Homo sapiens: one gene and its partners. The protein of the gene in region 2 interacts with the protein of the main gene of each other region in a pairwise test. Each region holds a gene or a part of one and is shown on either strand. Other genes may lie near its edges.

What was found.
Region 1: the proteins of NECAB2 (region 2) and PUS10 interact in binary tests that used the Homo sapiens proteins (3 or more experiments, as listed by UniProt).
Region 3: the proteins of NECAB2 (region 2) and MYPOP interact in binary tests that used the Homo sapiens proteins (3 or more experiments, as listed by UniProt).
Region 4: the proteins of NECAB2 (region 2) and ADAMTSL2 interact in a two-hybrid assay, tested with the Homo sapiens proteins (one large-scale study listed by IntAct).
Region 5: the proteins of NECAB2 (region 2) and ODAD3 interact in binary tests that used the Homo sapiens proteins (3 or more experiments, as listed by UniProt).
Region 6: the proteins of NECAB2 (region 2) and KLC3 interact in binary tests that used the Homo sapiens proteins (3 or more experiments, as listed by UniProt).
Region 7: the proteins of NECAB2 (region 2) and ODAD4 interact in binary tests that used the Homo sapiens proteins (3 or more experiments, as listed by UniProt).

What each region holds. Positions count from the first base shown.
Region 1 is NC_000002.12:60,959,074-60,963,386, forward strand, and holds part of PUS10 (tRNA pseudouridine synthase Pus10), read right to left. Parts: intron 3,818-4,313; coding exon 3,753-3,817; intron 2,476-3,752; coding exon 2,390-2,475; intron 1,445-2,389; coding exon 1,319-1,444; intron 1-1,318. UniProt on the Homo sapiens protein: Protein with different functions depending on its subcellular location: involved in miRNA processing in the nucleus and acts as a tRNA pseudouridylate synthase in the cytoplasm.
Region 2 is NC_000016.10:83,966,118-83,971,144, reverse strand, and holds the start of NECAB2 (N-terminal EF-hand calcium-binding protein 2), read right to left. Parts: upstream 2,902-5,027; 5' UTR 2,497-2,901; coding exon 2,296-2,496; intron 1-2,295. UniProt on the Homo sapiens protein: May act as a signaling scaffold protein that senses intracellular calcium.
Region 3 is NC_000019.10:45,889,190-45,893,093, forward strand, and holds the end of MYPOP (myb-related transcription factor, partner of profilin), read right to left. Parts: intron 3,091-3,904; coding exon of another isoform or gene 2,981-3,090; intron 2,135-2,980; coding exon 1,434-2,134; 3' UTR 834-1,433; downstream 1-833. UniProt on the Homo sapiens protein: Transcriptional repressor; DNA-binding protein that specifically recognizes the core sequence 5'-YAAC[GT]G-3'. Dimerization with PFN1 reduces its DNA-binding capacity.
Region 4 is NC_000009.12:133,541,133-133,545,445, reverse strand, and holds part of ADAMTSL2 (ADAMTS-like protein 2 precursor), read right to left. Parts: intron 977-4,313; coding exon 896-976; intron 1-895.
Region 5 is NC_000019.10:11,424,560-11,428,872, forward strand, and holds part of ODAD3 (outer dynein arm-docking complex subunit 3), read right to left. Parts: intron 2,482-4,313; coding exon 2,314-2,481; intron 2,226-2,313; coding exon 2,124-2,225; intron 2,013-2,123; coding exon 1,887-2,012; intron 1,708-1,886; coding exon 1,585-1,707; intron 1-1,584. UniProt on the Homo sapiens protein: Component of the outer dynein arm-docking complex (ODA-DC) that mediates outer dynein arms (ODA) binding onto the doublet microtubule. Involved in mediating assembly of both ODAs and their axonemal docking complex onto ciliary microtubules.
Region 6 is NC_000019.10:45,343,317-45,347,629, forward strand, and holds part of KLC3 (kinesin light chain 3), read left to right. Parts: intron 1-2,217; 5' UTR 2,218-2,225; coding exon 2,226-2,483; intron 2,484-3,227; coding exon 3,228-3,458; intron 3,459-4,130; coding exon 4,131-4,200; intron 4,201-4,313. UniProt on the Homo sapiens protein: Kinesin is a microtubule-associated force-producing protein that may play a role in organelle transport. Plays a role during spermiogenesis in the development of the sperm tail midpiece and in the normal function of spermatozoa.
Region 7 is NC_000017.11:41,957,922-41,962,234, reverse strand, and holds part of ODAD4 (outer dynein arm-docking complex subunit 4), read right to left. Parts: intron 854-4,313; coding exon 769-853; intron 1-768. UniProt on the Homo sapiens protein: Component of the outer dynein arm-docking complex (ODA-DC) that mediates outer dynein arms (ODA) binding onto the doublet microtubule. Plays an essential role for the assembly of ODA-DC and for the docking of ODA in ciliary axoneme.

The DNA of each region.
Region 1 (4,313 bases), on a different chromosome or scaffold from region 2:
CATGAACCTGGGCTCGTTAATACCTAAATTCAAAAACATTACAGCTGCCATTCAGTCTTTGTAAAATGGCTGCTGTTGATTTACTTTCTCTAGGCCTGAACTTTATTCCAGGACACTTTACAGGTTAAGAGAGAAGCCAAACACTTGCCAGTGATTACTCTTGAAGAAGCACTGGATGTGGAAGATGTGTTTTAATTTCCTCATATTCCCCCAAAGAGGCCAAGGCTGAGGTGTACCAAGGTCAGGGCTTAGGTGCATTCATTTAAAGTAGTTTCAGTTGTTTTGAATTTCCCCAGGAGAGAACAGTCATTTTTCAAATTTATTTTTTATTTTTTTAGGCAGAGTCTCACTCTTTCGTCCAGGCTGGAGTGCAGTAGTGCGAGCTCAGCACACTGCAACCTCTGCCTCCTGGGTTCAAGCGATTCGTGCCTCAGCCTTCCAAGTAGCTGGGACTATTGGTGCGCACCACCATGCCCAGCTGATTTTTGTATTTTTAGTAGACACAGGGTCTCACCATGTTGCCCAGGCTGGTCTTGAATTCCTGGCTGCAAGTGATTCGCCCGCCTCAGCCACCCAGAGTGCTGGGATTGCAGGTGCGCACCACTGCACTCGGCAGAGCAATCATCTTGAGAGAGGACAGGCAGATATTCTCGAGTGCCTTGGCTGAAATCCAGCCCAGGCCAGCGGCACCCAGAACATGATGCCATAGGCACAGGAAGCCTATGGCCAAGAGGCCCAGACTTGGTAGTGATTAACAAAATATAGAAATCTTTCCTGCCACCCCCAAGAAATCTATTCATGAATGTCAGTGTATTAAATATATGGCCAAGTGCAGTGGCTCATGCCTATAATCCCAGCACTTTGGGAAGCCCAGGCAGGAGGATCACTTGAGCCCAGGAGTTCGAGACCAGCCTGGGCAACATAGTGAGACCCCCCAATCTCTAAAAATATGTTAAAAAATAACCGAGCATGGTGGTGCATACCTGTGGTCCCAGCTACTCAGGAGACTGAAATGGGAGGGTTGCTTGAGCCTGGGAGATTGAGGCTGCACTCCAGCCTGGGTGACAGGCTCTCTCAAAAAAAAAAAAAAAAAAAAGAGAGAGAGAATAAAATATGAAGATTAGGTCAGGTGGGGTGGCTCATGCCTATAATCCCAGGACTTTAGGAGGCCAAGGTGGGCAGATCGTTTGAGCCCAGGAAGTCAAGGCTGCCATAAGCTGTGATCGTGCTACTGCAATCTAGCCTAGTTGACAAAGCAAGCCCCTATCTCAAAAAAAAAAAAAAAAAGAAAGAAAAGTATGAAGATCGTAACACTTACTCTCTGCTTTAAATACTGCCAACAGATGATCTGAAATTAATTCTTCCACTGAAGATTCCAGCTTCCTTTCTCCATCAATTATCCAAGGAGTTTGTGGTAGATTCCTGGAGTATTTATTATATCTCCCTGAGAAAGAAATAATCAGATAGCCTGGATGGAATGGAGTAATTAACATGGTAGGATAAAAAGAGAAGCAACAACTATAAGGGCCAATATCCTAAGTGCTACGATATAAAACAAGGCCTATCCTTTACCTAACTAACAATCCAATTTGGAGACCTGGGACATATACATGTAGATAATTAAATAAAAAGGTTTAAAGTAACAATAAAATAGATGGGTAAATATATGATATGAATGGTACATCAAATGAGTTTGAAAGGAATGCTCAATATATTTAATTTGATTGGCTGACTAAACAAGTTATATAATATTATGAATATACCAAGGATAAAAAAAAAAAAAAAAAAACGCAACCAAACTTGCTTTTACACCTGATGAGTAAAGCTACAGTAAGGCAGGTAGCTTTCATTGCCCTAGGATAGGATATTATAGTCAAGGCTGAAGAGCAATTTCACTTCAGCTATTACTATAAAACAGTTGTAACTTTCAAACAAAAATTTGTCTGCCAGATTACCTTTTAGGAAAGTCAATGAACAATTTCTTTCCAGTGGAAGCCAAGTGTTTAGTCATTTTGGAGATAATAAGTTATTTTTTCAAGTTTGCTTTTATGTTATAAAATAGCCTCTGTCCTGCTGTTTTTCTCCAAACCAGTTTTGGGTCTCTGCATCTACCCATATTTCTACTTGGCCATCTCTGATGAGAACTATTAAAACCTAGGAAGTGTCATTTCCCTTTGGCATGGCATTTAAAATAACTGATCTCCTAAGTGATCCTTTAGAATGCCCACAAAACCTAAAATAAGTTTGGCTATTGATTCTACTTCTCAAGAGAGTAAACTTATTAGAATCTAATAACAACAATAAGAATAAAATAGAACAGGAGTCAGCTGAGTTTTTAGAAAGGAGAGTACGTTCACAGTGTATGTATATTCTAGACTAAATATTTTACCAGCCACAAAAACAGCACCATGAGCACATTCAATTTCAAGAACAGCGCATACAGCCTTTGGTGAGTTTGGAGGACAAGGAAACTGCCTGCAAAACAAAATAAATTTTATAGCTATTTTCCAGACATAATATTGAATCACAAAACTTAGATGAATCAGCATTGTCTGAGACATACACAGAGCCCAAGTCTCTCTCTAACTTTTAGTTTCGCAACAATACAGGTCTTGCAGGCCTGTGGAGTAACAATTTTAACATATGAGAGTGGCACTAAGTAAATAAGGGCTCTGCTGCTACCTTTCACCTTCGGGAGGACTTATCTTCCGAGGCAAAAACTGCAATTACTTTTGCACCAACCTAATACTTTCCAATAGCCTCAAGATTTGAGGGAAAAATCCATACATAGGAAGTGGAAGCCCCTTCAGGCTCTTTAACCATTTTGCTGTCCATGGTCATGTGCAGTTTACTGCTGACTCTACCCCCCTTATCACATCATCGTTTGAAATGTATTGAAGGATCTTCTGGAAAGAAAACTTACAGTAATATTTTATTTAATAAAATGAATGTACCAAGAATTAAAATGTAAGGTTTATTGCATTTATTTTATTTTAGCATATTTTAACAAGTGAGGAAACTCATGAGCCTTCCTCTCCCTTTTCTGGAGATGAACGATACTAGGAAATACAGGACTAAGGATGTAATAGGCATAGCACTGGGCTAGAATTTCAGGACATCTGGCTCCAGGTCTACTCTATTACTAGCTTAGGCAAGTCAACTCCTTCTTTGGACACACTACCCTCTTCTAAAAGATCAAGAAGTTAAACTTGATTCGGCCGGGCACGGTGGCTCACGCCTGTAATCCCAGCACTTTGGGAGGCCGAGGCGGGTGGATCACCTGAGGTCAGGAGTTCAAGACCAGCCTGGCCAACGTGGCGAAACCCTGTCTCTACTAAAAATACAAAAAATTAGCCGGGCAGTGGTGGTGCATGCCTATAATCCCAGCTACTTGGGAGGCTGAGGCAGGAGAATCACTAGAACCCGAGAGGCAGAGGTTGCAGTGAGCCGAGACTGCTCCACTGCACTCCAGCCTGGGCAACAAAAGTGAAACTCTGTCTCAAAAAAATAAATAAATAAATAAGTATTTTTTAAAAAAAAAAGACGTTAGACTTGATATTAATTTGACAAACATTTACTGAACACCACATATGCCAGGTACTGCACCATGGGTTGGAGAGATAACAATGACTAAGACACAATCCTGGCCCCTGAAATACATCATCTTGTTTCAGAGATAATCCAGCTTATCTCTAACATTCCCTTTATTCTAAAATTTCACGATGCTTCTTTGTTTCTAAACTTCTACTTACTTAAGGAAATCCTCTTCCTTTATCTTATTCAAGGCTTTCATAACTGCCATTCTAGTGAATACAGACTATATAGGGTAAAATGAGAAGAAAAGACATTTTATTATCCAGACAAGAAAACATCAGACGTGAAACACAGAACATGGCTGGAGAAATTGTATCATTTCATTATATCATTTCATATACTTAACATGGAGAAATACTTAAGCATTTCAAGAAAATAAATAAAACTTAAGCATTCATGTCAGTTCTGCAACTGGCATACCTCTGTAACCCTTCTCTTCAATCTGGTCTTTGTCTATAATAACAGGCAGATCTAGCAGAACAGGTCTTCTTCACCACACTGTCCCACTTCTCTCAAATTATGGTATAATTCAAATACAAAACATGATGACACTGTAGGAAGTGTGATTTAATTTTTTTTCCCTTGACTTCAACAGGAATTTAGATTGATTCAGCTACCTTTTCTTTCCTACATCCCTTCAGAGGCCACAGTATGTAATTTAGGAGTTGGCTGCCAGGGTAAGGGATAAAGCAGAGCCAACCTGCCAGCCCTGGCATCTA
Region 2 (5,027 bases):
GTAACCAGTTCCCACGGGGACTGATTCACCAGCACTATTTTTTTTTTTTTTGAGATGGGGTCTCGCTCTGTCACCCAGGCTGGAGTGCAGTGGCGCGATCTTGGCTCACTGCAACTTCTGCCTCCCGGGTTCAAGCAATTCTCCTGTATCAGCCTTCCGAGTAGCTGGGACTACAGACGCCCGCCATCACAACTGGCTAATTTTTGTATTTTTTAGTAGAGACGAGGTTTCACCTTGTTGGTCAAGCTGGTCTCGAACCCCTGACCTCAGGTGATCCACCCGCCTCGGCCTCCCAAAGTGCTGGGATTACAGGCGTGAGCCACGGCGCCCTGCCCACCAGCACTTTAAAGCCTGAGAAGGATCCCAGCTTCTGCGGTGGCCCCCACCCCAATCTCAGTGGCTTGTTTTAACAAGGAGGGTACTGAGACCCAGGGAGAGGCAGCAACATGTACACATTTCCCGACACCAGGGAGGGCTGCTGGGGCCAGGTCAGCCATGGAGGAGGAGGAGGTAATACTCACTCTGACCCTTCCACCCTCTGTCCTCGCCTTGGGGTAAAGGACAGATGCCCTCGCCCCCCATCCCTCCAGGCAACGAGAAAGGGGGCACCCTTGGTCATTTCTAGGCACCTGGGCGGTGAGACTGAAGCACAGCTATGGGAGGGCCTCTCAAACATCACCCCTCCTCCTGGCTGAACCTCAGATCCCCAAGCCCTCCTCAAAGATCCAGCCTGGGCACCCCGCAGCCCCGTTCCTGACTGGGCAAGGCTCCTCAAAACTGGGGTCCCTATCTGGGTGTCCCAGATCCCCCTTGAGGCCAGGCACCAGGTAGGTGCCGGCTCTGGGCAGGAATGCTGAACACATGAGTGACATGGCAGGGCTGACACCTGGTAATGTCAGCCAGCTCCAGGAGTCTGCATGAGCACCTCCCGCCCCACCCCCCGCTCATCACTCCTTTTGGCAGGTGAGGAGATGGAACCTCAGAGCCCCCACCCTGACTGGGCAGGGCTTCCATGCAGGGCAGCTTGGGGCTGCAGGGCTCTGCCCAGGACTTTCAGTGGGAGCTCTGCGGGGGTCCTGAGGAGGGGATGGTTTGGCTGCATGGGTGTGTCTCTGGCTGTGTGTGCGTGCGTAAGCGAGTGCGTGAGTGTGTGAATGTGTGCCTGCGAGTGTGGCACTCTAGAGCTCCCCCTGCTCTGGCCGGCCCTCCCAGCCCAGACCCCGGCCAAGGGTTCCAGGAGCAGGGAAGAGGAGAGAGGAAGGGAGGGAATCCCCCGACTCACAGGGATCCGCGATACACGCGTGTGCACATTCACACACACCCACCACTCTCCCAGAAATCCACCACACAGGCAGAGGCAGCCCCCAGCCCCACCCCAGCAGGACCCTCGCTGAAACACGCAGTCAACATCCCCAGAAGCCTCCTCCACCTCCTCCTAGCACTCTCTGCTGGGAGAAGTCCTCCTCCTCCGAGCCGCCCCCTGAAGATTCCTCCCTCCCGGGTGGGGCGGGTGGGAGGGTGAGGTGGGCTTCCCAGAGATGGGTGATTTGGGTCCCAGGGGAGTTAGGAGGGGTGAGGGGTGAGTCTGGTCCATGAAGAGGACCCAGCTCTCTGTAGGGTAGAGGGGTGTGGGGAAGGGAACAGAGGACTTGGAATGGAAGGGGGCGGGGTGGGGAAGACCAGAGGGGTACCAGCTCAGGGCTGATGGGCGATGGCTCTGGCTCAATGGAAAGGAGACGAGAAGACAGAAGGTGGGGAGGGGGCTTCACTTTTAAAGTGGCAGTAGCTGGGGCAAAGGGTCTTTGAGCGTGAGATGAACGGGGGCTCAGGGTCTAGGGCGAAGAGAGGTGGGCTAGAGGTAGGGGTTGTTAGGGGTCTCAGAAAAGTATCGCTCCGGACAGGATCCGGGATGGAGAGGAGGAGGCGGCTGGACGCGGCGAGGGGCTCCGGTCCCGCGGGGTAAAGGGTGGGGGTTTGGCTTGGACAAAACTAGGGGGACAGTGGCCGGGTCCGGGGGCTCACGGCTCCCCACTGTGGGCAGGCAGGGACTCCGAGAAGCGCCGGTGGAGGGGCGGAGGAGGGGGGTCTCCCGGTCCAGGGAGAGGACTGGGCTGGAGACCGGCCTGGACGTGGCGGGGCTGGGGGCTCCCGCTCCGGCACGCGGAGGGGCCGGGGGTCTCCTGCCCGGGTAGGGAGGGCCTCGCGGGTCGCGGCGTCGGGGTCCGCCCGAGGGGCGGAGGGGGCTCCGGGTCCCAGCGGAGGCCACGGCGGGGGTCCCGGCCGGCGCGTACTCACGTCCAGGATGACGGCGGTGCCCCCGCGCGGCGAGGCTGGGCCGGGGTCCGCGGGGGCGGCGGGGGCCAGCGACTCCCGGGGCTCGCCCATCCTGGCGCCCACCCAGCGCAGCAGCCCGCCCAGCGCCCGGCCCTGCTGCGGCGGCTCCCGGAGCAGCCTGTGCGCGCCGGCCCTGCACAGGCGCGCCGCCCGCTCGCACATCGCGCCGCGCCCGCCGCCGCCGCCCGGAAGCCCGCCGACCCCCGCCCAGCTGCGGCCCGCCCCCGCGCGACCCCCTCCCCGCGCTGCCCGCGCCGCCCCGCCCTCTCTCCCGCTGCCCCCGCGGCCGCGGACACCGCGGGGACTGGCCGGCGCCGGGGGGCGGGCCGGCCGGACCCCGAGCCACGTGCCCGCTCCCCGCCGCCCCCACCCCCGCCGGCCGGGCGCGGGGCCTGAGGACTGCCCGCCGGGGCGAGGGGCGCGGGCGCAGCCACAGAGGGGGCTACCCGGAGGGGAGGGGTATGTGGGGCCTGGGGGCGGGGCGGCGCCCCTGGGGCCTGCTCCCCAAAAGTCTCCTGCTCTCCCCGCTTCTAAAGTCCCCCCTCCCACTCGCGGCGCGCAGCAGAGGCCGAAGCGCGGGTGTCCAGCGAGCCCGGAGCGCCCTCTGCCGGCTCCAGCCCCGGGGAGCGGCGCCCACGCCCCGCGGCCCCGTCACGCCCGCGGGCGCCCATCCTTAACTCCCGCGGGCGTGCACGCCCCCTCAGGCCGCCCCCTTGGTTACAAAACGCCCAGAACCAGTCTTCACCCCAGAACATCTTTCCTTCATACTCCATCCACCCATCCATCTATCCACCCACCCACCTGTCCGTCCATCCATCCATCCATCCATCCACCTGCCTACCCGTCCATCAATCCATCTATACATCCATCCACCCATCCTCCCATCCATCCATCCGGCCGGCCGACTGTCCGTCCATCCATCCACCCACCCTCCCAACCATTCATCCATCCATCCATCCACCCACCCAGCATCCTCCCATCCATCCATCCATTCACCCACCCACTCATCCTCCCTCCCTGGCATCCATCCATCCACCCTCCATCCATCCATCCATCCACCCTCCCATCCATCCATCCATCCATCCATCCATCCATCCATCCATCCGTCCATCCATCTGCCCGCCCGCCCATCTGTCTGTCCATCCACCCACCCACCCTCCCATCTATCCATCTATCCACCCCCCTACCCTCTCATCCATCCATCCATCCACCCACCTACACACCCTCCCATCCATCCACCCACCATCCTTCCATCCATCCATCTATCCTCCCTCCCTCCCATCCATCCATCCATCCTCCCTCCCATCCATCCACCCACCCACCCACCCCCCTCCCTCCCATCCATCCATCCATCCATCCACCCACCCACCATCCTCCCATCCATCCAACCATCCTCTCATCTATCCATCTGTCCACCCACCCACCCATCCTCCCATCCATCCATCCACCCATCCATTTAAAAGATGAATTAAGGAGAACCCACTAGGTGCCAGGCAGGTGCCCAACCACGGAGTTCCAGCAATGGGCAAAACAGATGGTGTACTTGGTCTCCCAGAGCTCCTGGAGCTTACATCCAAGTGGGCAGAGCCAAACACTGAAATGATTCCACAAACAAATGAACAATTAAAACTGAACTGCTGGAAGGGTGTGGTGGCTCATGCCTGTGATACCAACACTTTGGGGAGCCAAAGAGGGCGGATCACTTGAGGTCAGGAGTTCAAGACCAGCCTGGCCAACATGGTGAAACCCCGTCTCTATTAAAAATACAATAACTAGCTGGGCGAGGTGGCAGTCACCTGTAATCCCAGCTACTTGGGAGGCTGAGACAGGAGAATCATTTCAACCCAGAAGCAGAGGTTGTAGTGAACCAAGCGCCACAGCACTCCAGCCTGGGTGACAAAATGAGACTCTGTCTCAAAAAAAAGAAAAAAAAACTGCACTGCTATGAAAAGGTAGCACCTTAGACCATGAAAGGAGTATTTGCTGTGACGGCAGTGGAGGGGTTTGTGTCAGAAGAGGCTTCCTAGAGGAAGTGATTCTTATGCTGAGACATCCCAAGGAAAAGGAGTTAAAGAAAGGCGGGAAACTGTCCTGGGCTGGGGACTCTCTGTGCAAAGGCCTTGGGGCAGGCAGAGACCTGGCCAGCAGGAGGGACTGAAAGGAGGCCGCATGGCAGAACAGAGAGGAGGGAGGCCTGGGACAGGCTGCGGAGGGGGCGGGGCTGCAGCGCCCTCCTGGACATCACTGCCTGCACACACCCGCCACTCCCACCCCCAGACTCTAGTACAGCTGCCCGCTCAACTGCCCCCACACTTGGGGCACCATCCTTTGTACCCCAAGGCCCCAGCCATGGACCTCATCCAGGACCACATGCCCCAGGACTCCTCCCACAATCCCCTTTCCTCCCTTCCCCCCAGCCCAGTGCAGGGTTCCGGGAACGCAGCTCCCTCCGAGCACAGAGTCCTCAGACGCATGAGAGCAGGTGGGCACTGGCTTTATTTGGGACCTGCTTCTGGAAGGCGCAGGGCTGCAGGTCTCCTGGCTGGGTGCTCAGCTGGTCACACCAGCAGCTTTCCCCACAAATCCCAGGTCTAGGCCAACCCTGGCCTGCGGCCGCTGTTACCACCTCAGACACTGGTCTAAGTCCAGGGCAGCCTGGGATCCCTACTCCTCTTGACCCCAAAGGCCAGCAA
Region 3 (3,904 bases), on a different chromosome or scaffold from region 2:
TTTATGTCCATTCTACAGATGAGGACACTGGAAGCCAATGGTTACACAGTTGGCCAGGGCAGCACCAGTACTTGAGCCACGTCTTGAGTCCAGAGTGGTGGTGATTATCTACTTTGTTACCTGGCCCTGCAGCAGAGTAAAAGAACCAGTTCCTGCCTTCATGACATTATGGGCAAATGTGCCTTAAATAGATAAAGGCCTGTGTTCATTTAGAGTCACTATGAAAAAGAACCCAGCTGTGTGTGGTGGCTCATGCTTGTAATCCTAGCACTTTGGGAGGCCGAGGTGGGAGGACTGCCTGAGCCCATGAGTTCCAGATCAGCCTGGACATCATAGAAAACCCCATCTCTAGAAAAATAAAACAATTAGCTGAGCATGGTGGCACATGCCTGTGGTCCCAGCTACTTGGGAGGCTGAGGCAGAAGGATTGCTTCAGCCTGGGAGATCGAGGCTACAGTGAGTTGTGATCATGCCACTGCACTCCAGCTGGGGCAACAGAACGAGATCCTATCTCAAAAAAACGGAAAGAAAAGAAAAGAAAGGAAAAGAAAAAGAAAAAGAACCACAGGACACTGAAAGAGACTCTAAGAGGCAAACCCACGTTAGCCTTGGGGAAGGAATCTAGGACTTTCTCCTGGAGTTGACATTTAGACTGGTATCTAAAGGAAGAGTAGGAATAAGATTTCATGTAAACACAAGACTTGATGGCTTTAAGAATTAAAAAAAAAAAAAAGCTGGAAAACCACCAGCCTCCCAATTGCCTGCCTGTGGAGGGGGCGGGGCAGGTGTAGGTGCTGGTCCCCCAGGCCTGTCTCAGACAGAGCCTCAAGTAATTGTATTAAAAATAAGTTTATTGATATCTTGTCACCACTGGGAGAAAGGAGGGGGTTGAGCTCTGGAAGTCAGAGACAGCAATGGTAGGCAGAGAACCCAACCTGTACCTCTCCCATCAGAACTCGGCGCCTCCTCTCCCTGGGGTATACACGGCTATATCCTCTTTGTCATCCGTATTTTGATTTGTCTTACAACTCCCACCCGCTCCAAAGTCTGGGTTGGGGAGGTGGGGAGTCCCCCACGGGTCAATTCTCTTCAAGTCAAGAACAGGAACTGTTAGGGAAGGGGAGATGTGCAGACCCGAGAGGTTCCCTCCCCACCCCACATAGGGCAATAATAAATAACATGAAATTGATGGCTTAGAAGTCAGGGTTAAGGGAGGCAGCCAGGCAGACAGCACTGTACCAGAGAAAGGGGTTGGGGGGGCCCATTACTGAGGCCCCCCCCAGAGAATCAGGCACTAACTAGCACAGGGAGTGGGTGCTCACATCCCTGGAGCAGGGAGCTAGGGTGCAGCTGGGATGGGCAGAGAGCATCGCCCCCCTCGACTGCGCCAAGCTGGGGAGAGGGGTTGCAGGCAGGATCATAGATAGTAGATTTCACGGAGATTTCCATCGGCCGCGCCTTTTCCGTGTAGGGAAACCTTTTCTCCGCTTGTGTGGGGGGGAGTCGTGCGGAGGGAGCGGGGCTGGGGGGGGCCGGGGTGCCCCCTCCTCGCTCCTTGGGGCAATGATCACTCCCCTGGCTGCCACCACTGCCCCGTCCACCACAGCAGCCACCACGGACACGGGCTCTGGGGTGATCTCCACCTTGGGGGCCGGTGGGGGCAGGACAGGCCTGGGAGGTGGCGGTGGGGGTGGGGGTGGGGGCAGAGGTGGAGGCAGGGAGTCAACTGGGGTTCCTGGCAGAAGGGGCAGCAGAGCGCTGAGGGCCTCGCTCAGTTTGGCCAGTCCCTGTCGAAGGGTGCCGGCCAGCTCCCGGATGGCGTTGGCAGTCTCCTGCTGGGCCCGCAGGAAGTCCAGGGAGGGGTCTGAGGCCGAGAGCGTGGGTGGAGGCCGAGGAGGGGGTGGGGGGCTAGGGGGTGAGGGTGCCACTTGGGCCAGTGGCGGTGGGGGTGGCAGTGGAGGGGCTGGGGGTGGTGGAGACAAGGCCAGGCGAGGCAGCTGGACCGGCTGCAGGGCCGAAGGGGGTGGTGACTCACGCTCCTTGGGCCGTGGGCAGCCCCCTTCCTGGGGAGTGCAGGAGGGCCGGGCCCATGGCTCCGGGCTGCTGGAGCCCGCCTTGCTGTGGGCTGATGTATCTGTAGAGAGAGAAATACAGGTAAGGGGTGAGCGACCCTCGATGCTGCCTTGATTTCCCCTTTCCCACTCCTTCCCTCACCTCCCCCCTACCCGAACCCAGAACTATCCTTCTCACCCCCGCCCCCCAGCCCCAAGACAGTCTTGGTCTGTCACCCAGGCTGTAGTGCAGTGGTGCAATCTTGGCTCACTGCACCTTCCACCTCCTGGGTTCAAGCGATTATCCTGCCTCAGCCTCCCGAGTAGCTGGGATTTCAGGTGACCGCCACCACACCCGGCTACTTTTTCTATTTTTAATAAGAGACAGGGTTTCACCATGTTGGCCAGGCTGGTCTCGGACTCCTGACCTCAGGCGATCCGCCCGCCTTGGCCTCCCAAAGTGCTGGGATTCCAGGTGTGAGCCACCGCGCCTGGCCCCAGAATGATCCTTTTAAAACCTAAGTCAGATCATGCCTTGGAAGAGAAGCTCCATGGCAGGCCAGTCTTTGTACCCGGAGGAGAAAAAGTCCTGCCAGCTTTAGTGGAAACAGGTCCTGGAAGTCCCTTGCTAGGCCAGGCAGCTCCCATCTCACTCACAGTAAGAGCCAACAGTTTTTTTATTTTTTTAATTTTTTTTGAGACAAAGTCTCACTTTGTAGCCTAGGCTGGAGTGCAGTGGCGTGATCTCGGCTCACTGCAACCTCTGTCTTCCGGCTTCAAACGATTATCCTGCCTCAGCCTCCTAAGTAGCTGGGATTACAGGCAGGCGCCACCCCGCCTGGCTAAATTTTTGTATTTTTAGTAGAGATGGGGTTTTGCCATGTTGGCCAGGTTGGTCTCAAACTCCTGACCTCAAGCAATCCACCCACCTCGGCCTCCCAAAGTTCTGGGATTACAGGTGTGAGCCACTGCGCTCGGACAAGGGCCAACATTTGACGAGGTTCTGAACTATATGGATACTGCACCACACTGCTGGATCCTGAGGAAGTGAGAGAGAGGTCTGGGAGAGAGCTGGGGTGTCTGGGCACTGGTGGACACTTCCCTGAGACTCTCTCCAACCAGGACAGCAGGATTTTCCAGTTCAGCCCCCAGCCTGGTAGGTTTCCTCAGTCTGTACTCACCTGGGGTCTCATTCATGCTCATGGGCTTGAACAGTTTGCATACAGGGGCTCCCAGCTTCCTGGGCTCAGCCTGAACCTCTCGCCTGGGCTCCAGACTCCTGTCTCCAGCTGTGTACTCTCAATTGTCGAAAAACGCCCCAAACTCACTTGCTCGGAGCTGGGCTTCTGATCCTCCCCCACCCTGCTCCTTCCTCAGCCACCCCCATCTCAGCTGATGCAGCTCCATCCTCCCAGCTGCTCAGGTTAAACACCTTCACTGTTTTGTTTACTAAGACACCATCCACATACAGAAGCTATCGTCTCTGCCTTCAAATTAAATACATACAACTTCTTTCTTCCTGGTCCCCCACCCTGGCCCAACCACCAGTATCTCCCACCAGGACCACTGCAGTCATCGCCTCCCTGAGGGCTCTCTGCTTCCACCCCTGTCCCTGACAGTATCTTTTTCCACCAGCAGCCTGAGGGGTCCAACCAAAATACAAGTCAGTTAGGCTACGGGAAACAAGCTAGTCACAAAGAACCACAGATCACAGGGGCCATTTATATGAAATGTCCAAAATAGGCAAATTTGGCCGCATGTGGTGGCTCATGCCTGTAATCCCAGCACTTTGGGAGGCCGAGGCGGGTGGATCACCTGAGGTCAGGACTTCAAGACCAGCCTGGTCAACATGG
Region 4 (4,313 bases), on a different chromosome or scaffold from region 2:
CCAGCCTGAAGACCTTCAGCAAAGCCTCCTCTTCCAGCACCCCCTTAGGAGATGGGCTTCACCCCACCAGTTCTGGCTCTCAAGAAGAGTGGGAGGCAGTGGGGGGAGTAAACCCAGGTAGTGTCAGGTTTGGGGCTGCACCTGTGTCCAAGAACAGCGTCCCTATACCCAAGCCCGCCCCATAAAGGGAAGGGCCGAGCACAGAGCAGCTCACAGGTGTCAGCACCTGCCCACTGTGGCCCAAGGGGTGCAGACATGGCACGCTGCTCGGCCAATACTCCATCTTCCCAGAGGGCTCTTCCAAAATTTGCCACCAAGGCTCCCTACACTCAAAATCTGCCACCAAGATGGGGCCTCACCACTCTGTCCATCATGGAAACAACTCCAGAATACTCAGGTTAGAGGACTCCCCTCCTACAGCCCAGCCTCCCAGCGGAGTCTGACTAATGGCAAGAACATCAGCATGAGACCCCAGACCTGAGTCGGAATCCTACCTCTGCACCGACTTCCTCTCAGTGCTACCTTGACCTTGTCATCTCCTGAGACTCACTCCTCGAACCCCACAGGGATCTCATCTGCAGCGGCCCCCAGCTTCTGCCTGTGCCAGGCTCTCGAGTGACAGGGAGCTCACCACCCAACATCACCACCCTCCCATTGTCCAGCAGCTCTGAGTTCAAGGTCCTGCCATGCACAGGGGTAAAGCTGGCTCCCCTGTGAGCACCCCAGCCACACCCACACAGCTGGCTCAAGTTCTGGCTCCTGCAGCCATGCCCACAGCACTGGTCCATCCCTGTCCTGGAGGAAGGGGTCCAGGGTCAAGTGCCCCTTCTCTGCCACGCACAACGCTCCACAACCAAAAGCTCAGTGAGGCAGCTGCCAGACACTGCGTACCCACCTAGCACGTCAGCGGACTTCTTCCTCTCTACAATCTGGATGTCTCGGGCACCAGCCGGGATGTGGGTCACCAGAGAGTAACCTGGAGGCAAAAGGATGACAGTGAGCCCCTCTTGATTGGAAAGGCAGCCTTGGGTGGCACTCGCCCACTCCACAGCTATTGGAGGGTGAGCGGTGGCTGTCTAAGGGCTGGCCCAACCCCCACACCCGCTTGTGTAGCTCAGCTCAGCCCCGTCCCATTGCAGAGGCTGACTCACCAAGCTGGGCACCTGCCCAGGCTCACCCCTTCCTACCAAGGCCATAGGAAGGCTCATCCGTGCTTGCCCCAGCCCCTCCCGAGGGACAGCGAGGGCCACAGGGACATGGAGCACACTGGGAGTTCAGTCCGGCTCTGCCATGTGTCACCCAGGAGACCCTGGGCAGCCGATGGAGCCCCAGCTCCCTGCGTGCATTGTCACTGCCATTTTAAAATCCTGTCTTGTGACAACAACACGTTGACTTTCAAGGCTAGCTACACTCAAAGACGTGGGTGAGAAAGGACAAGGAGAGCTGCAGATAGAATCTCCAACTAAGCCTACGCCCTTCCTAAGCACCAGGCCCCAGGCTGAGATCCAGATCGGGCAATATCAGCCAGCTCAGAGCCTGTCTTCAAGGCCCCCAGGCCCGTGCGGAGGCAGCCATGCAGTCCTCCCAGCTAGAAAGAAACCAAGGGTCTGGAGGGGAGGTGCTCAGAGAAGGAGAGGCATTGCTGGCAGGTGGCTGAGAGAGGAGCCTGGGGAGAAGGAGAGATTTTAATACGCCCTGGGACAGGAAAGAAGGGGCTCTCCAGGTCGGACGTTTCCTGAGGCTTGACGCTTGTCTCACCGGATCCCTCTGGGAACGGAGGATTCCGCGTGCATCTCCCTGCTGGGGTGAGTGTCTCCTGCAGGCCAGTACCCGCCTGCCATCCCTCCCCTAACACCATCACACCTACAGGTCCCTGGAGATCCTGACCTGTCCCTCACAGACAGCCGTGCTCTGGAAAATGTTTAACAGTGGGCTCTTTGGAGACACAGGGGAACAGGAGCTGTGACTTGTAGCATTGGCCAATTTCCGTGGTGTAAACACCCCCGCTGTGGCCAATTTCAAGCCACTGTAATGGGGCAGCTTAACTTCAAAATGCATTTTAAAACATTTTTCCCCTTCTTTGGGTTTCAAGATAGAAGCTTGAAGCAAGCGACTGAAGCTATGTTTGTTTGCACTACCAACCTGATATCACTGGGTGTGGCATTGGGAAGAGAGGCTGCAGCACACCCGTATATGGTGTTTTTGCCACACAGATAAAATAGTTATACACTTTGGGAGGCCGAGGCGGGCAGATTACCTGAGGTCAGGAGTTCGAGACCAGCCTGGCCAACATGGTGAAACACTGTCTCTACTAAAAATGCAAAAAAAATTTAGCTGGGCATGGCGGTGGGAGCCTGTAATCCCCGCTACTTGAGAGGCTGAGGCAGGAGAATCGCTGGAACCCAGAAGGCGGAGGTTGCAGAAAGCCGAGATCGCATCATTGCACTCCAGCCTGGGCAACAAGAACAAAACTCCGTCTCAAAAAAAAAAATAGTTATAGACACTAAAGGATTAGAAAATGGTGACTTTGTTTTAAATATAATGTATTTAAATATAGACTGTTATACTTTAATTTTCAAATTAGCAAGCAGCTCACAAGATTCTTGAGCATTTAATACCCCAGCCCATCCCACAGCCCCCAGCGTGGTTACCAAGCACAGTTCGTCCGGGGAAAGAGTGTGGCTCAGCTGGGAGGATCACAGGCCAAGAGTAGGCTGCCTGGGTTCAGGCCCCGTTCTGCCTCTTGTGGCTGTGTGACCTTGGATGAGTTATTTAGCCTCTCTTTGACTGTTTCTGTATATTTCAGCAACAGTAATAGTGCCAGCCTTGTAGAGCTGTTGCCAGGCGTGAATGAGTTACCTTGTGAATATGGAGAAGAATGAGGGGCGCTGTTTGCATGTCAGCCCCTTGGCCCCAGGCTGAGTTCCACGAGGACATGAGCCCTATCTCTCAGGCCTCACTGTGTGCACAGTGCCTGGCACACACTACGTGCCCTACAAGACACGTGCTGCCCCAATGCCCACTCTCCCTCTGCATGCCCTGGGTCCAGCAGGAGGCCGTGTGAGCAGGTTTGTGAGAGGAAGGGAGGAAAATCAGACACCTTAGCGGCTCCTAGAGCGAGGCCTCCAAAGAAAGGGCCTCTGCCCACCTCGCCCTGCTGGACACCCAGCCCGCATTATTCACACCCCTGCCTGTCCCTTGTCAGTCCGGCACGCCCGTCCCTAGGTCCCATGTCCAAGCCCCACCCTCTCCAGTGCCCTCCCACTGGCACCTCCTGGAGCCAACACTCACGCCACAGTTAGCCCTCAGTGGCAGGCTGAGGTCATTCCCTCGACCTTCAAGACACGGTCGGGTCCTCCGTGGCCCTAACAGGCCTGGTTCTAGTCCAGAGTCAACTGGCCTCATTGGGACCTTGACAGATTATTCCCACTCTGGGCCTTGGTTTCCCCATCTGCTAAGTGGGTCTGAAGCTGTCCTGCCTTCCCAGGTCTGGAGGTTGCAATAACCCAGTTCCATTCCTCAAACATTTCTTCAGAACCAAAAGTGTGTTCAATCTAATGCCAAGCATTACAAGTGACATCCCTCCAAAAGTAGAAAGTGCTGTCCCATGCACAGACGCCCACCCCCGATGAGGGCTGGGACAGAGCTGGACACAAACATCGGGCCAAATGCCTGCAGCTTAGGAAGGGGACAGGTGCTGCCCAAGGGAAGGAGGGGTTCTGGGCTGGGTCAGCCTGGAGCCGACAGGGAGCCTCTGAAACTCAGGCCCCAGAATCCAGCGTGCCAGGGTCAAACCTCATATCCGTGGAGAGAATGGGTCTTGGGCCTTAGTTTCTCCCTTTTTAAAGTGTGGTGTTAGCCAGGTATGGTGGCTCATGCCTATAACCCCAACACTTTGGGAGACGGAGGCGGGTGGATCGCTCGAGGTCAGGAGTTCGAAACCAGCCTGGCCAACATAGTGAAACCCCATCTCCACTAAAAATAGAAAAATTAGCCAGGCTTGGTGGCACATGCCTGTAGTCCCAGCTCCTCGGGAGGCTGAGGAATGAGAATCGCTCGAACCTGGGAGGCAGAGGTTGCAGTGAGCCCAGATCAAGCCACTGCACTCCAGCCTGGGCAACAGAGCAAGACTCTGTCTCAAAAAAAAAAAAAAGGTGCATTGTTAACACCTCCCTGCAGGCTGTCTCAAAGGGCAAATGTGACCCCCAAGCCAAGTGTCCACTGGTACCCAGCAGGTCCTCAACAAAGGGTTGCCCATTCTTGCAAGCCAACGGAGGCCTACAATCACCAGGCCAGCTCACCCGGCCTGGGAT
Region 5 (4,313 bases), on a different chromosome or scaffold from region 2:
TATATGTATATATGTGTATATATACCTATGTGTATAAATATATATGTGTATATATACCTATGTGTATATATGTATATATGTGTATATATACCTATGTGTATATATGTATATATGTGTATATATACCTATGTGTATATATGTATATATGTGTATATATACCTATGTGTATATATGTATATATGTGTATATATACCTATGTGTATATATGTATATATGTGTATATATACCTATGTGTATATATGTATATATGTGTATATATACCTATGTGTATATATGTATATATGTGTATATATACCTATGTGTATATATGTATATATGTGTATATATACCTATGTGTATATATGTATATATGTGTATATGTACCTATGTGTATATATGTATATATGTGTATATGTACATATGTGTATATATGTATATATGTGTATATGTACATATGTGTATATGTATATATGTGTATATATACATATGTGCATATATACATATGTGTATATATGTGTATATGTGTATATATGTATATGTGTATATGTACATATGTGTATATATGTATATATGTGTATATGTACATATGTGTATATGTGTATATGTACATATGTATATATACATATGTGTATATGTACATATGTGTATATATACATATGTGTATGTGTACATATGTGTATATATGTGTGTATATGTACATATGTGTATATATGTATATGTACATATGTGTATATGTGTGTATATGTACATATGTGTATATATGTGTATGTGTACATATGTGTATATGTACATATGTGTATATATGTATATATGTGTATATGTACATATGTGTATATATGTGTGTATGTACATATGTGTATATGTATATATACATATATGTGTATATACACATATGTGTATATGTATATATACATATATGTGTGTGTATATATGTATATATGTGTGTATATATGTATATATGTATATATGTGTGTATATATGTATATATGTATATATGTGTGTATGTATGTATATATGTATATATGTGTGTATGTATGTATATATGTATGTATATGTGTATATATGTGTGTGTATATATGCATATATGCATATATGTATATATATGTATATACGTATATATATATATATATATGCAAAAAAAACCTATCAAACAACAACTACAACAACAACAACCCAAAAAACAAAAAGGCAGGACAGGGCTTTGGTGAGGGCTGGATGGGAGGCAGCCTCAGGGCAGGTGCAGGGGCGGGGCCAAGAGTGAGGGGGCAGGGCCTTAGGCAACGGTTGGCTCAGAGGCACGGTCAGATTCAGGACAGGCAGTCTAGTCAGGTGGGAAAGGATGGGTAGGGGGGTCACTGAGTAAGGGGAAGGCTGGAGGCCATGTCAGAGCCAAAATGGTGCAGTCGCTTAGGAGGGGAGGGGAGGAGAGGCGGGGTCAGGGATGTGGGAGGGGTCTTCGCACCAAGTGGGGGTGGAGTCAGAGAGGGGGCGGGGTTAGGAGAAACAGAAAATGGGAGAAGGCCTAGGATGAGGGAGAGCCAGGGCATGGCTGGTTTGTGCTGGGCTGGGCTGGAGTCACAGGCGCGCACCCCTGGGTGCGCCCACCTTGCGCTCCATGCGCTCGTTCTCCAGTTTCTTCTCCTCGGCGCGCTTCTTGCACTCACTTATGTAGCGTTCCCGCTTCTTGCGCTCTCGAACCAAGGTCTCCTCTAGGTACTGCAGCTGGTTCTGGAGGGCGGGCAGGGTAGCAGGGAGACCAGCTGGCACCTACCACTGCCCGCCGCAGGGTGCTGGGAGATAGATGGGGGCGGGGGCGTAGGGGAAGCTCAGGGACAGCTGAGGTCAGATTCTCAAGCTGGGAGACCGCGGCAGCTGGGCAGGATGGCCGAGGGCAAGAGGGGTGGCACCTTGGCAATGTCCCGGGCATTGAGGGCCTCTTGGTTCACCACGTGCAGTGCCTCCAGCTCATGTTTGGTCCTCACCACCTCAGCCTCCATGGAGTCCAGCCGGTTCTCCAAGTTGAGGCTCTCGTCCTGGGGCGTGGTGGGGAGGGGTAGCGGAGATGGTGCAGGTCTGTGACTGCTGTCCCTAGCCAAGCCCGCCCTCCCTGTTTGTCATCTCACCCGAGCCCTCCTAGTCCCTACCATTAGATAGGCCTTGAGCTGCAGGTACACGCTGGTAATGTGCTCGGCCTCCTGCGCCTTCATCTGGGCCTTCTCCAGGCGGTTCTCCAGGTTCCGCATGGTCTGGAGAGCAGCAGGGCTGGGCTGAGGGCCCTCCGCACTCAATCCCTCCCACACGACCCTCTGCCCTGCAGGCCTCACCCGCCCCTACCTTGGCCACCTCCGTGTGTCTGTTTTGCGCCTCCGCCATCTCCAGAAGGCGCAGGCTGTGCTGCAGCTGGAGCTCCTCCAGCCGCCTCTGCCGCAACACCACCTGGTGCCGCAGGGCGTTCTGCTGCTTCACCTTCTCCCTCAGCCGGTGGTCTAGGTGCTCCAGGGCCTGCCGCAAGGAGGGGAGCGAAAGCAGGAGCCTCAACACCCTACCCCGACACACACCTAGCCCTTCCTCCCTTCCTTCTCCCACACTGTGGCTTCCAGGACTCCCCTCTCCCGTTTTCTACCCACCTCCCTGGCCACCCCTTCTGTGTTGTTTTTGTAGAGAGAGCACCGGAGTCTTCTCTCTGTCTATATCGACCACCTTGGCGATCTTACACCGGCTCAGGGTTCTAAAAAAATATTTTTAAATTTTTCTTTCTTTCGTTTTTTTTTTTTTAGACGGAGTCTTGCTCTGACACCCAGGCTGGAGTGCTGTGGTGCAATCTCGGCTCACTGCAACCTCCTCCTCCTGGGTTCACGCCATTCTCCTGCCTCAACCTCCCGAGTAGCTGGGATTACAGGTGCCCACCACCACGCCTGGCTAATTTTTGTTTTTGTTTTCTTTTCTTTTTTTTTTTTTTTTGAAACGGAGTCTCGCTCTGTCGCCCAGGCTGAAGTGTAGTGGCACGATCTCGGCTCACTGCAACTTCCATCTCCTAGGTTCAAGCAATTCTCCTGCCTCAGCCTCCCAAGTAGCTGGGATTACAGGCATGTGCCACTACACCCGGCTAATTTTTGTATTTTGGGTAGAGACAGGGTTTCACCACGTTGACCAGGCTGGTCTCAAACGCCTGACTTCAGGTGATCCACCTGCCTCGGCCTCCGAAAGTGCTGGGATTACAGACGTGAGCCACCTCACCCAGCTATCTTCTGGCCATTTTTTTCTTTTAAAAAATGTTTTAGGCTGGGCGCGGTGGCTCCCGCCTGTAATCCCAGCACTTTGGGAGGCCAAGGCGGGTGGATCACGAGGTCAGGACATCGAGACCATCCTGGCTAACACGGTAAAACCCCGTCTCTACTAAAAATACAAAAAATTAGCCGGGCATGGTGGCAGGCGCCTGTAGTCCCAGCTACTCAGGAGGCTGAGGCAGAAGAATGGCGAGAACCCGGGAGGCGGAGCTTGCAGTGAGCCAAGATCGTGCCACTGCACTCCATACTGGGCGACAGTGCGAGACTCTGTCTCAAAAAAAAAAAAAAATTATAGAGGCAGGGTCTCGCTATGTGGCTCAGGCTGGTCGCGAATTCCTGGGCCCAAGCCATCCTCCTTCCTCGGCCTCCCAAAGTGCTGAGATTACAGGCAAGAGCCACTGCACCCAGCCCAGTTTTGTTTTGTTTTGTTTTTTGAGATGGGGTCTCACCCTGTCACTCAGGCTGGAGTGCAGTGGCTCGATCTTGGCTCACTGCAACCTCCGCCCCTTGAGCTCAAGTGATCCTTCCTCCTCAGCGTCCTCAGTTGCTGGGACCACAGATGCATGCCACGACGCCTGGGTACGTTTTTGTATTTTTGGTAGAGACAGGGTTTCATCATGTTGCCCAGGCTGGTCATGAACTTCTGAGCTCAAGTGATCCACCTGCCTTGGCCTCCCAAAGTACTAGGATTACAGACGTGAGCCATCACGCCCAGCCTTTTAATTTTTATAATTATTTTTTCAGACAAGGCCTTGCTTTGTCACCCGGACGGGAGTGCAGTGGCACGAACATGACTCACTGCAGCCTCGACCTCCCCAGTTCAGGTGATCCTCCCACCTCAGCCTGGCAAGTAGCTGGGACTACAATCCTGTGCCACCACATTTGGCAAATCTTCTGTATTTGTTGTAGAGTCAAAGTTTCACTATGTTGGCAGGCTGGTCTCAAACTCTTGGGCTCAAGTGATCCTCCAGCCTTGGCCTCCCAAAGTGCTGGTATTACAAGGCATGAGCCACCATGCCTAGACTGTGTTTTATTTTTTATTTATTT
Region 6 (4,313 bases), on a different chromosome or scaffold from region 2:
TTCTTTCTTTTTTTTAAATAATATTATCACTTTTTGACACGGAGTTTTGCTCTTGTCACCCAGGCTGGAGTGTGGTGGCGTGATCTTGGCTCACTGCAACCTCCGCCTCTCAGGTTCAAGCAATTCTCATGCCTCAGCCTCATGAGTAGCTGGGGACTACAGGCGCATACCACCATGCCTGGCTAATTTTGTATTTTTAGTAGAGCCGGGGTTTCACCATGTTGGCCAGGCCAGTCTCAAACTCCTGACCTCAACTGATCCACCCACCTCGGCCTCCCAAAGTGCTGGGATTACAGGCGTGAGCCACCGCGCCCAGGCTTGGTTTTTATTTCTAAGAGAATATACCTGTGTGTTGGGAGTGTATACAGATTGTTTTTGAAAGAATAGTATATGTGTGTGCCTGAGTCAGTGTGTTGTCTTAGGTTGTATTTCTAAAAGGAAAATGTAAATGTTTTTACTGAGTTGTATATTTAATAGGAGAAAGTGAGTGCGTGTTCTAAGAGGAGAATGTATATTATGCTGTCCTTTCTTTCTTTCTTTTTTGACTGGGTCTTACTCTTTCACCCAGGCTGAGTGCAGTGGCACTATCATGGCTCACTGCAGCTTCAACCTCCTGGGTTCAAGCAATCCTTCTACCTCAGCCTCCAGGTACACCATCACCACACCCAGCTAATTTTTTTATTTTTATTTTTGTAGGGATGGGGTCTCACTATGTTTCCCAGGCTGGTCTTGAACTCCTGGGCTCAAGTGATCCTCCTGCCTCAGCCAAAATCCCAAAGTGCTCGGAGTACAGGTGTGAGCCACCGCACCCGGCCTACATTGTGTTTCTAATGAGGGAGTGTGTGTGTGTGTGTGTGTGTGTAACTGTATTTCTGGGAGGGTGTGTGTGTGTACCGTCTTTTTTTTTTTTTTTTTTAAATGAAGTCTCACTCTGTTGCCCAGGCTGGATTGCAGTGGTGCGACCTTGGCTCACTGCAACCTCCGCCTCCCGGGTTCAAGCAATTCTCCTGCCTCAGCCTCCCAAGTAGCTGGGACTACAGGCATGCGCCACCATGCTCTGCTATTTTTTTTTTTTTTTTTCCAGTAGAGACAGGGTTTCACCCTGTTGGCCAGGCTGGTCTTGAACTCTTGGCCTCAAGTGATTTACCCACCTTGGCCTCCCAAAGTGCTGGCATTACAGGCGTGAGCCACTACACCTGGCCCCATGTTGTATTGGAGAGAAGGGAGAGTGCGTGTGTGTGTCAAATTGTATTTCGGAGAGGAAAATGTGTATGTTGCATTGTGTCTTTAAGAAGGGAGGGTGCGGGTGTGTGAGGTGTTTCTGAGGAGTGTGTTTGTGTGTATATGAGGACCCCAGAGGCACCACCAGCTAAGTTTCTGTGACCTTGTCACCCACATACAACCACATGAAGTCCCATAGAGGGGGGCCCCCACCCACTATGAGCTGGGCTTCAGACTCTCAGCTGTCACATGGCCAGTGTGACATACCTGGACCACACCTATCACACGTGTGTCCCGACAGGCCCTGGGCTGGCTAAGCTTGTCCGATGGAGGAGGGCGGAGCCCCTGTTCCCCCAGGGTCCATCTGTTGCCTGGGAGCCAACACATGGCCCCATCCTCATTCCCCCCAACCTAGAGGCCTCCTGGGCTTCTGGGGGCCCTGGCCCCTCGGCCCTCTCCTCCCACCCCACCCACCCCCAGTGGTCTGACTGGTTCCCGACAAAAACACCCTAAGAATGAGCTCACGCAGAGGCTGCCGCCTCCACACGCCCCGCCTCACTCTGCCGGCAGAGGAGGGTGCCTCTGGTCCCAGGTCACACGGCCAACCGGGAGCTCTGGGCCAGGGGATCCAAGGGCCTTGGGGTGGGGAAGGCTGGCCAGGTGAGCTGAGGGCAGATGGGGGACCCCAGGCTAGCTGTTTGCTTTCTCTTGGTTAATTACACATAGGATTTGGGAACTGTCCTCAGGGCAGAACCCTGGGTTGGGAGGACAGACGAAGGTAGACAAGACTGTTCCAGATGAGAGCTGGCTGGGATGGGTGTGGAGACTGGGATGGAGAGGGTGTGGAGGCAGAGGGCTGGCCAGGATGGGTGGAGCAGGGAAGAGCCAGGATGGGGAGAAGTTAGGGGTCCTGATGGCCATTATGGGAATAGAGGCTGGGGGCCAACTGACTGGCCCGGGCAATGATTCCCCAAACCCCTCACCATTGCTCCCCAGGAGCAGCAATGTCTGTGCAGGTAGCGGCTCCTGGAAGTGCAGGGCTGGGCCCAGAGCGCCTGAGCCCTGAGGAGCTGGTGCGGCAGACGCGGCAAGTGGTCCAGGGGCTGGAGGCGCTGCGGGCAGAGCACCATGGCCTGGCTGGGCACCTGGCGGAGGCCCTGGCGGGACAGGGCCCGGCAGCCGGCTTGGAGATGCTGGAGGAAAAGCAGCAGGTGGTGAGCCACTCGCTGGAGGCCATCGAGCTGGGGCTGGGCGAGGCCCAGGTATGAGGGGGCCAGGTGGGGAGCTGGGGGAAGGTCAGCTGAGGGCGGAGGGAGGGCCAGGCATGAGGGGGACAGGTATGTAGGGGACTGGGAGAGGGTTCACTATTGCAGAGGGGCACACTTTGGGAGGCTGAGGTGGGCAGATCACTTGAGGTCAGGAGTTCAAGACCAGCCTGGCCAACATGGGAAAACCCCATCTCTACTAAAAATACAAAAAGTAGCTGGGCATGAGGGCTCCTGTAATCCCGGCTACTCAGGAGGCTGAGGCATGAGAATCGCTTGAACCTGGGAGGCGGAGGTTGCAGTGAGTGGAGATCGTGCCATTCCACTCCAGTCTGGGTGACAGAGAGAGACTGTCCCAAAAAACAACAGAAAAAAGTATGGCAGAGAGGCACATCCGGGGCAGGGGGAGGCCTAGGGGAACCAGGCCTGGGAAGGGGAGGCTCCAGGTCAGAGATGGAGTCCCTTGGCAGCTTTAGGGGGTCCTTGTGTGTGACAGGGACCCCTGAACCAGATGGCATTCTTCAGTAAACTGTGGGTCCTAGGGCAAGTTTGGGGGTAAAATCAGAGGGGCCCCTGGGAGCCTCTGAGGGCACTGGGGCCATGTTGGCAGAGTCTCTGCAGAATCTGGGGGTGTCGTGCATAGTAGTGGGGTGCTACGGCCTGACTCGAGGCCTGGGCTGGGTCAGGGGCCGTCTGGCAGGGCAGGAACCAACCTCGACTTGGGACCCCCACCCCGGGCAGGTGCTGCTGGCCCTGTCGGCACATGTGGGTGCACTGGAGGCAGAGAAGCAGCGGCTGCGCTCGCAGGCCCGGCGGCTGGCCCAGGAGAACGTGTGGCTGCGGGAGGAACTGGAGGAGACGCAGCGGCGGCTTCGGGCCAGCGAGGAGTCCGTGGCCCAGCTGGAGGAGGAGAAGCGCCACCTGGAGTTCCTGGGGCAGCTGCGACAGTACGACCCACCGGCGGAGAGCCAGGTGCCACGGGCAGGGCGAGGCGGGGGGTGCTGGGCCCTTCATAGAGCCCCACAGTCCCCCAGACCCTCCTTAGAATCCCACAGTCCCCAAGATCCTCCTTAGAATCCCACAGTCCCCCAGACCCTCCTTAGAATGCCACAGTCCCCCAACCCTCCACAGAGCCCCCAGACCCACCAGAACTTCCACAGACGCCCCCACTAGCTACTCCACGAAGCCCCCGAGCCTCGCCAGACCCCCAGGGGGCCTCTGACGCTCGTGACCACCACCTCCCTCAAACCTTGAGATAGGCTGGGTGCGGTGGCTCACGCCTGTAATCCCAACACTTTGGGAGGCCGAGGCGAGCAGATCACCTGAGGTCCGGATTTCAAGACCAGCATGACCAACATGGAGAAACCCCGTCTCTACTAAAAATACAAAATTAGCCGGGTGTGGTGGCACATGCCTGTAATCCCAGCTACTCCGGAAGCTGAGGCAGGAGAATGGCTTGAACCCAGGAGGTGGAGGTTGCTGTGAGCCAAGATCGCACCATTGCACTCCAGCCTGTGCAACAAGCGAAACTCCGTCTCAAAAAAAAAAAAAAAACAAAAAAACAAAAACCTGAGATAGAGCCAGGGCCCCGGTCTCTGAAACAAGCCCCCACCACCCCGGCCCCCCACTTTCCTGTCTCTGCAGCAGTCTGAGTCCCCGCCTCGCCGAGACAGCCTGGCCTCCCTGTTCCCCAGCGAGGAGGAGGAGAGGAAAGGTGGGTGTTGGGAGTACATGCCACAGAGGATGGCAGGCCAGGGTGGGGAGGGGGCTCTGAGCTGCAGGACCCCAAAATCTCTGAGCCAGGGGATGGGGAGGTGAGGGCAGGGT
Region 7 (4,313 bases), on a different chromosome or scaffold from region 2:
CACCCCTCCCTAGCTACATGACTCTGGCAGAGCACTCACCTCACTCAGCCTCCCTTTCCCCCCACAGCACCTACACCTCCTAGTGGGGTAAAGACCCAACAAGATCACTCCTGTCTGGTGCTTAACCCAGTGCCTAGCACACAGTAAGAGCCCCCAAAGTGTAGCTACTGTTATTCTGTCTCTGTGCCTCTGGCCCTGCTGTTCCCTGCTGGAAAAATGCCTTTCTTCTCCCACTTCTCTCCTGGAAAACTCCTGGGCATCTTTTGGAGTTGGAGGTAGAAGATTTTTCCTCGTCGAAGCCTCCTCTGCCTCCCCAGAGGAGCCCACGCCCCGTTGCATGCACCCTCATGGCAGCACACCTCCACCTCGGTGTAGCACCTGTGTGCAGGATCCCAGCAGCTGACAACTCCACTGGTCAGCCTTGCCCAAAGGGCCATGGGCTCCTCCAGGGCAGGGATGGGCCTCTCTCCCCAGAATCTAACACCTTCCAGGTACATGACAAGTGCTCACCATATACTTGATGAATCAATTGAAGAGAGAAATGAGTGCGCTCTGGGGCCAGACAGTCCAGCCCATGGTGGGCTGAATCCTCACCCTCTACTGCCCCAGAGATAGGCTAGGGCTGCTGGTGGCACTGAAATTAGAATGCACGATGGGCAGTGCCAAGCCCCCAGATTGGGGAGCTGCTGTCGCATGTGTCTCGGACTAGAGGAAAAGAAAGCAGAGGGAGAATGCTGAAGTTGCCTTTTCAGAGTTTCAGGAACTCACCTCCCTCGCTTTTTTCTTTGAGATTCTCCACGTAGTTGGTTTTCCTCAGTTCTCTGATGATACCCTTGTTGGCATCGTCCAAGGCCTGTGGATGGTAGAGGGAGCTTAGCCCCTGTGTTTGGCACCTACACCATTAATTTTCCCCACCCAGATCAATCCCAGAAGGCAGGGCTCTGGTGGGAACCTGCCACCCTTGGTTTCCCTCTGGCCCCTCCAATGACCCCTACCCTCAGGTTAATCTACACTTACTGACTCAGAATGATCCACACAAATTGTGTCTGGGAGATACATGACTGCGAGTCAGTCAAATGCATTTCTCTTTGGCTTAGGCATGTATTGGGAGTTGTGTCTATCTACTCATTTCTACCTTTAGATGAACTACCTAAAGCTGCTTTTGGCTTCAGTCAATGCAAAAAGACAATCCAAACCTGCAAGCACTCAGCAAGGCAGCACTGAAAAGACCCAGAAACACACCAAGGGGACAGGCTGGGGGCTGGCCTGCCTTCAGAAGGGCCTTCCAGAATGTCTGCAGTTTCCCCAACTCGAGTGCATGATCCACAGGGGCCTGGAGCCCCTGTGAGCCTCTGGAGGGCAGGTCTTGCCTTCTTGCTCATAGCAGGCCCGTGGCTGGCACTGACAGAACACCAGCTACACATGGTAGTGTCTACTGAGCAGCTCCGGGGCCTGGATGCACTCTCTTGTGGTGTTGGTCTGCCCACCCCCCACCTCCCTCCCACTGTGAGCCTTCCTACCTGGAGTTGCCAATCCAGGAGGGTGAGGGGTCGGGGGCCTGGTCCCATGAGGAGTCAGTGAGGGTCACAGGTACCTTCTCTCTGCCCCTAACCCTTCAAACTACTGCCTAGCCTTCAAGGTGACCTCAGATCCTCCTTGTTGGAAAGCCTCCAGCTCTGCCTCCCAGCTGGGGCTCTCTCACTCTGAATTCCCCTAGTCCCCTATGGCACTGGTCATGAACCAGGGTTTGTGCTTTGTTTTTTGTTTGTTTGTTTGTTTTTTTTTTTGAGACAGAGTCTCGCTCTATCATGCATGCTGGAGTGCAGTGGCACGATCTCAGCTCACTGCAAGCTCCGCCTCCTGGGTTCACGCCATTCTCCTGCCTCAGCCTCCTGAGTAACTGTTTTTTTGTTTGTTTGTTTTTTCTTTTTAAGAGACAGGGTCTTGCTATGATGCCCAGGCTGGTCTAGAACTCTTGGACCCAAGTGATCCTCCTGCCCTCAGCCTCCCAAAGTGCTGGGATGACAGGTGTGAGCCACTGTGTCTGGCCTTTCGTTGTAATCTTCTTGTGGGCTAGGACAATGGCCGCACACATTTGAGCTTGGCAGCCTGGAGCCAATCTACACTCGGCGAATATTTCCTGAACTGAACGGCCATGCTGTCTGTCTGCAGGGCGATCACATGGAAGTATGTGGCGCATGGTACATCTGGCAGGGCTGCAGTGAGGTGGGTGCTCTTCGCCTGGAAGCCAGAGCTGGGGACATGGCATTTATGACGAGGACGACAACATGCTAGGCCTGGGCTTCCCTGGGCCGTATGGTGGCAGAGGATAGACTGCGCCTGCTGGGGTCTTTTGGGTATGATTTCTCCGCCATGAGAGGGCAGTGTTAGCCTTACCACAGTCCTCACAAACAGCTCACCATGAACCTGCCTCCCAAAAAACAGAGGTGATCAGATCACTTCTCTGCTGTCCACAGCCCTTCAAGTCCAGGCTGGTGTGCTGACTGTCTGGGGCTCTGTCACCACCATCCCCCGCCACCGGGAACCCCCCAGCTCTGGGACCCAGGCCAGGATCTCTCTTCTGCCGGCCACCAGCCCTCAGCGCCGACCTCCCACGTCTTCAGTGCACTTGCCCCTCCTCGGCCTGGCCAGCTCTGCTATCCTTGTCCTTCAGAGCACAGCATGAGGTCTTCCTCCCACTGGGAGTGTCCTGAGCCTTCACTTCTCAGGGTCCCTGCTCTCTTTGCCCAGTGCCTGCAGACCCCAGGCTGGTCCCTGAGGCCATGCCCCTTTGCTGCCCACAAGTTATGCAATCTGGCTTCTTTCAATGATGGCATAAGCTCCCCAAGGACAGGGGCCCCGTTTACTTCACTCCAGCAGATACTTCCTGGGGTCCAGCTGCGTGCCAGTGGTGCTCTGGAATTTGGCTGTGGGAAGGGCTTAAGGAAGCTGTCTGGTCAGAAGCAGGAGGAAGAGGCCTGGGTGAGTGTGCACCTGTGAAGTTGGTGTGCAGACTTTACTAAGCTTGTGCGTCCACCTGGATGCACTGGGAGTGGGTGGGGTGGGGGAGCCCAGAGCACCTCCAAGTTTCTCCCCTGGTCTCTGCCTCCTGACACAGTCTAGGCCAGCACTATTCAACAGAAATTTCTGTGACAATGGGAATATTCTAGATCTGTATTATGTAGCACCCATAGGCCACATGTAGCTTTTTTTTTTTTTTTGAGACGGAGTCTCGCTCTGTCGCCCAGGCTGGAGTGCAGTGGCGTGATCTTGGCTCACTGCAACCTCCATCTCTCAGGTTCAAGCAATTCTCCTGCTTCAGCCTCCCGAGTAGCTGGGACTACAGGAGTGTGCCATCACACCTGGCTAATTTTTTGTATTTTTAGTAGAGACAATGTTGGCCAGGATGGTCTCAATCTCCTGACCTCGTGATCCACCCGCCTCGGCCTCCCAAAGTGTTCGGATTACAGGTGTGAGCCACCGCACCCGGCCTCACATGTGGCTATAATGACTTGAAATGTGGCTAGTGTGACTGAGAATTTTACATTTTATTTACTTTTTTTTTTTTTTTTTTGAGATGGAGTTTCGCTCTGTTGCCTAGGCTGGAGTGCAATGGCATGATCTTGGCTCATGCAACCTCCACCTCCCGGGTTCAAGCGATTCTCCTGCCTCAGCCTCCCAAGTAGCTGGGACTACAGGTGTGTGCCACCATACCCGGCTAATTGTTTGTATTTTTAATAGAGATGGGGTTTCACCATGTTGGCCAGGCTGGTCTCAAACTCCTGACCTCAGGTGATCCATCCATCTCGGCCTCCTAAAGTGCTGGGATTACAGGCATGAGCCACCACACCCAGCCTAGTTTTAATTAACTTTAGCCTCACGTGGCTAGCAGCTGCCTCCTTAAGCAATGGAAGTCTAGGCAATTACAAGTGCACAACGTGGACTTTGATGGGGGACATATCAAGGCTGTGAAACCTGATGTGAGGGCTCCTCACCCAGACTGAGGGGTCAGAGAAGGCCGCCTCAAAGAGGGGACATCTAAGCTGAAACCTAAAGGTTGAGTGGGAGTTAGCCAGGTGAAGGAGGTGGGAAGGGAAGGTTTAGAATATTCCAGGCAGAGATAACAGCATATGTTATGAGGCATAAGAAACCTGTTTAGGCCGGGTGTGGTGGCTCACACCTGTAATCCCAACACTTTAAAAGGCTGAGACAGGAGGATCGCTTGAGTGCAGGAGCTCTCAAGTGCCCAGCCTGGGCAATATAGTGAGACCTCATCTCTACAAAAAATAAAAATTAAAAATATCAGCCAGGCA